Regions from separate parts of the Homo sapiens genome. Here all the other regions are linked to region 1. The links come from fine-mapping of genetic effects on gene expression. A gene starts in region 1. Each other region holds a variant in brackets. All regions are shown on one strand. Distances are between the middles of the regions.

Region 1 (2,848 bases):
GAAAATCAATGTTGACAACCATACTATAGGCAACAGACAGACAGTCACTATATTTTAAAGGTACCCTAACCTCCTTTTCTATAATATTTGAGGACATGAAGACGTGAGGAAGCTCTTGAAGGAAAGGATTTGTATATCCCCGGAAACAAGCACGGTGTGGTACATAGGAGGTCCTCAAGAAATGTCTGCTGAATTTTTCACATTTTCATCTTTTGTCTGTATACAATTTTGGAGACAAACCACAAAGGCCTTACACAAAACAGTTACGGAAAAAACAGATGGCCTGTGCAGAGGGGATTATTTTTCTGATTGCAGCTGTCACTTCAGGATTCAAGAGTATCGTAAAAGCTAAAAGGCACTTTAGACATCAGTAGTTATTACTAAATCGGGGAGGGAAGTATGAATTTCTACATCCCCTGGGCAGTTTTACAGAATGTAGTTCAGAGTTACCAGCAAGGTTGTTAGCATGCAAATTTCTGGGCCCTCATCAAGCCCACTGGATTGCCACTTCTGATGGCTGAGGCCCATAATCTGCATTAACGTAATACGCTCTCTAGATGAATTTTAGGTCCACTAATGGAGGACAACAGTCAAACGCAGCTCAGTTAAACACACGGCTGTCAGAAATTATATATTGCTTGTAACAAGGTTGCCCAGACTGATCTAAAACATTTCTTTTTGGCTCAGAGATATGTTAATCAATCCAGAGGGAAAACTGGTTCTCCTATTGACCTAAAGGAGTGATCAGCAGTTATCTTTTTAGTCTGATTTTAGAGAGGAAACGGACTATACCTCAATGTATTTTCGTGACCATGAGGTTACAAAGCTTGATGTCCAGGAGGCAAAAACCAGTACCAGCAGAAGAAGCTGAGTAAATCAGGTTCCTCTGCTCAAAGATGAGCCCAGTGACATGAAACCCGAGGCACCAGATTTACAGCTAATGAGTGGCGAAATCAGATCCTCTTCCTCCCAGTCTATCCTTCCTGAAAACAGTGAATAACCTGGTCTCAGTAACCTGTTGGACAACCCAGCTGTCGGCCAATCGTTGCGGAATTATTTGCTGGTAAATGAATTGGAAGCATATGATGTAATGCAGCTGCCCTTCTCCCCACACACCTGAACTTCAGATTTCACAGCTGTAGAGCGTGTCTCTTAGGCCCGACATGACGCCCGGCGGCGCAGCCCACGTGGAAGCCGTGCTCGCACAGGCAGTTCTGCCACCACCGGGCGGAGGCCGGCACCACCCTCCTTGCTAAGCCTCCAAACTTTCCGTGCGCTCGTCACCGGTGTCGCGACCATTAGCAGGCCACGTGTGCGACTCTCTGTAACCAAGGCTTCCGCGACCCTACCCCTAGATCCGGGCCCCACCCACCCTGCCCCAGTCTCCGGGGAGGTGGGACGCCTGGGAGCGCGTCCCAGGTCCCGCAACCACAGCGCCGGCCACCGAGGCTTCTCGCCGACCGACAGGTCTCCCAGACCCGCACCCGAGCCCGGGTGCCTAAAGCAGCAGCGCGCGCCCCGCGGGATCGGGCACTACCCGGCCTGCCCCGGCGCTGGGATGCCCACGAGAGCGCCCCACTCACCCGGCACGGCCTGTTGCTCGCGGCCGCGAGCCCACTGCGTTGCGGCGCAGCGGCTGGAGGCGGGGCAGCGTGGGCACGCTCCGGGCCGTGCTCCAGCCCCCGCCCCGCCCCGCCACGCCGGCCCGCAAGTGGTGGCAGCCCGGAGGCCTGGCTACCCGGCGGTGTTCCGCGTTCACGCCCGGGCGTTTCTTTAGTCCATATGGAAGGAAATAAATGGCCTTTTTTTTCCTCTTTTTTTTTTTTTTTTTTTTTTTTTTTTTTTTTTTATGGTATGTGAGACAAGGTCTCACTCTCGCCCAGGCTGGAGTGCAGTGGTAGCGATCTTGGCTCACTGCAACCTTTACCTCCCGGGCTCAAGCGATCCTCCTGCCTCGGCCTCCCAAAGTGCTGGATTATAGGTGTGAGCCACCCACCCGGCTCTCCTTTTTTTTCTTTTAACTTGGGGCGGCAGGAGAGGATTTGAGAGAGCGTTTTGGTGCAACTCCGTTCCTTTTATGAATAGAGAAGCAGGCCTGAAGAGGAATACCAGCGGTGCAAGTTTAGGGAGTTGGTGGTCCGGGTTCTCCCATGGCTTTCTTATGGGCTGTGTGGCTACACAATGCTGATTTGTACAAGCCGAGTGTCATTTATATCATCTCGCTCCGGGAGAGAGAGTCAATCCTAGTTTTAAAAGATACTGGAAATTCGTTGCGACTATGGCTATAGAAACAGAAGAAATGCAGTTATCTGAGTCCTTTCAGCCTAACACTCCCTGCTTTGGAACATTTGGTTCCAGTCAGGAGGCACAAATGAGGGAGCAGGGAAATCAGTGGCGGGCCTGTGCCTTTCTTTGCTCTGTAGACAGCCAGAGGACCCAGAGGAAGTCGACATTTCGTTCCGTCAAGGTGACTGAGACCAGTGGCTGCTTCTAAGGATCAAGTGGCACATGAACAAATGGGAACAAAGTACACCCTTGTCTAGTATTTGTCTAAAACTAACAATAATAGCAAGTCTTGAATTGAGTTCTTCCTGGCTATAAGGCACCACGCTAGGTGTTTCAAATACTCCTCACTTCATCCTCACTACAACCTTGCAATTACCTCCATTTTACAGTTGAGGAAACTGAGTCAGGAGAGGTTAACTAACTTGCACAAGATCACACAGCTAGGAAGATGCAGAAACAAGATTAGAGCCAAACCAGTCAGTCAACTGTTGGTCTTTTTCACGTTTTACTAATACTCGTATAACTAGTAAGTTTCCTGGCAGGTTCCAGTTGGAAAAACTCG
Region 2 (2,848 bases), 63 kb before region 1:
TATTTGATTCTTCTCTCTTTTTTTCTTTATTAGTCTTGCTAGCGGTCTATCAATTTTGTTGATCCTTTCAAAAAACCAGCTCCTGGATTCATTAATTTTTTGAAGGGTGTTTTGTGTCTCTATTTCCTTCAGTTCTGCTGTGATTTTAGTTATTTCTTGCCTTCTGCTAGCTTTTGAATGTGTTTGCTCTTGCTTTTCTAGTTCTTTTAATTGTGATGTTAGGGTGTCAATTTTGGATCTTTCCTGCTTTCTCTTGTGGGCATTTAGTGCTATAAATTTCCCTCTACACACTGCTTTGAATGCGTCCCAGAGATTCTGGTATGTTGTGTCTTTGTTCCCGTTGGTTTCAAAGAACATCTTTATTTCTGCCTTCATTTTGTTATGTACCCAGTAGTCATTCAGGAGCAGGTTGTTCAGTTTCCATGTAGTTGAGAGGTTTTGAGTGAGATTCCTAATCCTGAGGTCTAGTTTGATTGCACTGTGGTCTGAGAGATAGTTTGTTATTATTTCTATTCTTTTACATTTGCTGAGGAGAGCTTTACTTCCAAGTATGTGGTCAATTTTGGAATAGGTGTGTTGTGGTGCTGAAAAAAATGTATATTCTGTTGATTTGGGGTGGAGAGTTCTGTAGATGTCTATTAGGTCCGCTTGGTGCAGAGCTGAGTTCAATTCCTGGGTATCCTTGTTGACTTTCAGTCTCGTTGATCTGTCTAATGTTGACAGTGGGGTGTTAAAGTCTCCCATTATTAATATGTGGGAGTCTAAGTCTCTTTTTAGGTCACTCAGGACTTGCTTTATGAATCTTGGTGCTCCTGTATTGGGTGCATATATATTTAGGACAGTTAGCTCTTCTTGTTGAATTGATCCCCTTACCATTATGTATTGGCCTTCTTTGTCTTTTTTGATCTTTGTTGGTTTAAAGTCTGTTTTATCAGAGACTAGGATTGCAACCCCTGCCTTTTTTTGTTTTCCATTTGCTTCATAGATCTTCCTCCATCCTTTTATTTTGAGCCTATGTGTGTCTCTGCACATGAGATGGGTTTCCTGAATACAGCACACTGATGGGTCTTGACTCTTTATCCAATTTGCCAGTCTGTGTCTTTTAATTGGAGCATTTAGTCCATTTATATTTAAAGTTAATATTGTTATGTGTGAACTTGATCCTGTCATTATGATGTTAGCTGGTTATTTTGCTCATTAGTTGATGCAGTTTCTTCCTAGTCTGGATGGTCGTTACATTTTGGCATGATTTTGCAGCGGCTGGTACTGGTTGTTCCTTTCCATGTTTAGCGCTTCCTTCAGGAGCTCTTTTAGGGCAGGCCTGGTGGTGACAAAATCTCTCAGCATATGCTTGTCTGTAAAGTATTTTATTTCTCCTTCACTTATGAAGCTTAGTTTGGCTGGATATGAAATTCTGGGTTGAAAATTCTTTTCTTTAAGAATGTTGAATATTGG[C/T]CCCCACTCCCCTCTGGCTTGTAGGGTTTCTGCCGAGAGATCCTCTGTTAGTCTGATGGGCTTCCCTTTGAGGGTAACCCGACCTTTCTCTCTGGCTGCCCTTAACATTTTTTCCTTCATTTCAACTTTGGTGAATCTGACAATTATGTGTCTTGGAGTTGCTCTTCTCAAGGAGTATCTTTGTGGCGTTCTCTGTATTTCCTGAATCTGAACGTTGGCCTGCCTTGCTAGATTGGGGAAGTTCTCCTGGATAATATCCTGCAGAGTGTTTTCCAACTTGGTTCCATTCTCCCCATCACTTTCAGGTACACCAATCAGACATAGATTTGGTCTTTTCACATAGTCCCATATTTCTTGGAGGCTTTGCTCATTTCTTTTTATTCTTTTTTCTCTAAACTTCCCTTCTCGCTTCATTTCATTCATTTCATCTTCCATCGCTGATACCCTTTCTTCCAGTTGATTGCATTGGCTCCTGAGGCTTCTGCATTCTTCACGTAGTTCTCGAGCCTTGGTTTTCAGCTCCATCAGCTCCTTTAAGCACTTCTCTGTATTGGTTATTCTAGTTATACATTCTTCTAAATTTTTTTCAAAGTTTTCAACTTCTTTGCCTTCAGTTTGAATGTCCTCCCGTAGCTCAGAGTAATTTGATCGTCTGAAGCCTTCTTCTCTCAGCTCGTCAAAGTCATTCTCCATCCAGCTTTGTTCCGTTGCTGGTGAGGAACTGCGTTCCTTTGGAGGAGGAGAGGCGCTCTGCTTTTTAGAGTTTCCAGTTTTTCTGTTCTGTTTTTTCCCCATCTTTGTGGTTTTATCTACTTTTGGTCTTTGATGATGGTGATGTACAGATGGGTTTTTGGTGTGGATGTCCTTTCTGTTTGTTAGTTTTCCTTCTAACAGACAGGACCCTCAGCTGCAGGTCTGTTGGAATACCCTGCCGTGTGAGGTGTCAGTGTGCCCCTGCCTGGGGGTGCCTCCCAGTTAGGCTGCTCAGGGGTCAGGGGTCAGGGACCCACTTGAGGAGGCAGTCTGCCCGTTCTCAGATCTCCAGCTGCGTGCTGAGAGAACCACTGCTCTCTTCAAAGCTGTCAGACAGGGACATTTAAGTCTGCAGAGGTTACTGCTGTCTTTTTGTTTGTCTGTGCCCTGCCCCCAGAGGTGGAGCCTACAGAGGCAGGCAGGCCTCCTTGAGCTGTGGTGGGCTCCACCCAGTTCGAGCTTCCTGGCTGCTTTGTTTACCTAATCAAGCCTGGGCAATGGCGGGCACCCCTCCCCCAGCCTGGCTGCCGCCTTGCAGTTTGTTCTCAGACTGCTGTGCTAGCAATCAGCGAGACTCTGTGGGCGTAGGACCCTCCGAGCCAGGTGCAGGATATAATCTCGTGGTGTACCGTTTTTTAAG
Region 3 (2,500 bases), 31 kb after region 1:
TTGTGGTGACATCCACACACACATTTTGTTCAGGTTTACCTCTCCCATTGACTACAAGGAAGTTTAAAGCCAAATTTTCAGACATCTACAGGACTTCTCTGAGCACCATTCTTTAATGACCACATACACATACCAGGATATATATAATACCTTATCCTTGTTTTTCTTTTTTTTCTCATACATTTCTAATTTATATTACCTTGCTTTATTTCACAATAACTATGTGCTAATCTTGTTAAATCTTTACTAAAATAAGGCAATACATGAGGAAACATGGAAATACATCTTTTCTGAATAAGTAGCAAGATTTTTTTTCTATGATAAATGCTGTTTATTTTCAAATAACATTATTCAAAACACAGGGACTATAGGTCAAAAGTTATAAAATAAAAATCATAGGTATTGCAGAGTTGGAAAACCCTTCTGCTAGTCTCAGCAGTAATTTCTTAGAAACCCAAGACGGCAAACCTATTAGATGGATCACTTAAGTACTTAGGCATTTGGCCTAAGAAATACACCTGGCCAACCCACACTGAACTGGCAGACTCTACTCTTAGAATCCTATTCTCAATGAAATACTCATTATCTTTTTCTTCCTTACCTAGTTCTAAGCTTCTAACAGTCAGTTTATATATGTTCAGGAATACCAAACAATTTTATTACCAGGAGTAATAAAATATACATCACATAGTACATTATAAAGTTAAAATATAAATTATTTTTAAGCTTCTCATTGTCTTGTATCACCTACATCACAGCCCCAATTTATTACTGTGTACCACTGAGAGTTTCAGTGATGGCTGTAGAGTACAATAACAGCTTTCTGACCTTACAACTTTATATAACTACTGTGAGGTTAAAAGAAATAAGGAAAACCTGTGAAAGAAATTCAAAAGAAAGACAGTATTAAGGTATATAGTTTTCTGTTCATTATTAACTTGAAATAAAATTAGTTAACTGCATCCTTTCTTTATTCATAATTTTCTGAAGAACAGTTGTCCTTTTTTTTTTTTTTTGGTGGGGTGGGGGCAGGGTGGAGTAACCAGGAAGTCAAACTGTGGCTCTGTCTTGTGGTTTTAGAC[T/C]AGGGGTGGTATTTTAGTTGAACCTGCAGGTCATGGGGAGTCCATTTCCCTATCAGGAAAGGTGGTGCTGCCTTGGAACGTTGTGAAGCCTTCATTTTGGGTAGTACAATAAAAAGTCTGATTCTATTTTTGATGTTTGACTGCTAAAAGCTCTCAAGCCCAACTTCTCCTTCTGCCCTACATCTGAGCAAGTTAATAAAAAGCCTAGGTCTCTTTTTGGCACCTGTGAAAAGTTCAAACCATGCATCTTGTCCTACGACAGGCAGCCTTCACCCTAGCTGCACCCCCTAGCTACCATAAAAACCCAAGCCAGTAGCCCCTTCCTGTTTTCTCAAGCCATTTTTCATTTCAGACCTGCTTGGGAGCCTGCCCATCTCTCTCTAGAAAGCCTCATTATGTAAGTAATAAATCACTTCATACCCTTTTGTCATGTGTATGGCATCATCAGTTTTGGCATCTGAACTAAATTTTGGATGGGGACGGGTACATCTGCCTCCATTAGTTTGCCATACAGTAGAAAGAAGAGGAGTTAATAACAGAGAGAAAAAGGCTAGAGAGTTGGCACCCAGGGAAATGGAGGACTGGGCCAGTATTTGGGGAGTCAGTCCCAAGACAAGAATAAAGAAGGTTTTTATACCTAGAGACAGTCACCTTCAATGGCCCTTTGAAAGTAGGCCTTAATACTCTCTATGAAAAGGATCAAAATAATGTGGATGAAAATAGGGTGATGATGACAGCTACTAACTAATATTTATTGAGCCTCTATTATATGGCAGATAACATTCTAAGGTACTTAACTATATGACATCATGTATCCTCACAACCCTATGATATAGAGAGTATTATGAAACCCATTTAAAGATGAGAAAGTTAAGGGTTAGAGAGATTAAGCAACTTGTCCAAGGTCAGGTTGCTAATAAATGATAGAGACAGGGTTTGAACTTAGGCAGTCTGTTTCTACTACTTACACATTCAGCCATTAGATTATGCTATGATAAAGAATAATTATTCAATGCATCCCTTAGGGGCAGGAGTCATTTCTTTTTTCTTTGTAAATTTATAGTGCATGATTTTGAGAATTTTGAGAAAGGGATCAGGAGGCAGAAGCCCTCATCTGCTTGTTAATATTGCCAGGTCGTGGTGATTTTTGAACAGTGGCAACGGTAGTGGTGAAGGCCAAGAAAAAAAAAAAAACACCCTGTTGTTCAGCTGTAAAATGGAAACTAAGGTCCTATAACTATATTTCTGACTCTTATAGCCAGAGTCAGATGTATAGTTTTTCTATACACCTGGGAGTGGTGGTTGTGGCTGGTAGTTGTAAGGATAGGAGTGAAGAAAACAAATCAAAAATTATTTTTGAGGAAGCTAAAATATTTAAACAGGAAACTAGTCTGAAAAAGACACTTGAGTTTGTCAGA

Evidence for each region. PIP is the estimated chance that this variant, and not a neighbour inherited with it, causes the effect.
Region 2: its variant is fine-mapped to the expression of RIOX2 in whole blood (INTERVAL, PIP 0.95).
Region 3: its variant is fine-mapped to the expression of RIOX2 in blood mononuclear cells (TOPMed, PIP above 0.99). The same link has a PIP of 0.9 or more in T cells and whole blood.

The regions. Positions count from the first base shown.
Region 1 is chr3:97,970,798-97,973,645 of GRCh38, forward strand. RIOX2 (ribosomal oxygenase 2) reads right to left here and starts at 1,634. Exons shown (of 10, transcript NM_153182.4): 1 at 1,584-1,634. LOC124909398 (a long non-coding RNA gene) reads left to right here and starts at 1,856. Exons shown (of 2, transcript XR_007095976.1): 1 at 1,856-2,848. RefSeq lists an enhancer at 849-1,108 and a silencer at 1,379-1,818.
Region 2 is chr3:97,907,619-97,910,466 of GRCh38, forward strand. All of the region lies in intron 15 of CRYBG3 (crystallin beta-gamma domain containing 3), which reads left to right. Among named protein-coding and RNA genes, the nearest start is that of RIOX2, 63 kb to the right of the region's middle. RefSeq lists enhancers at 2,244-2,834, 2,835-2,848. The variant C/T (reference allele first, on the strand shown) is at 1,456.
Region 3 is chr3:98,002,416-98,004,915 of GRCh38, forward strand. All of the region lies in intron 7 of GABRR3 (gamma-aminobutyric acid type A receptor subunit rho3), which reads right to left. Among named protein-coding and RNA genes, the nearest start is that of RIOX2, 31 kb to the left of the region's middle. The variant T/C (reference allele first, on the strand shown) is at 1,083.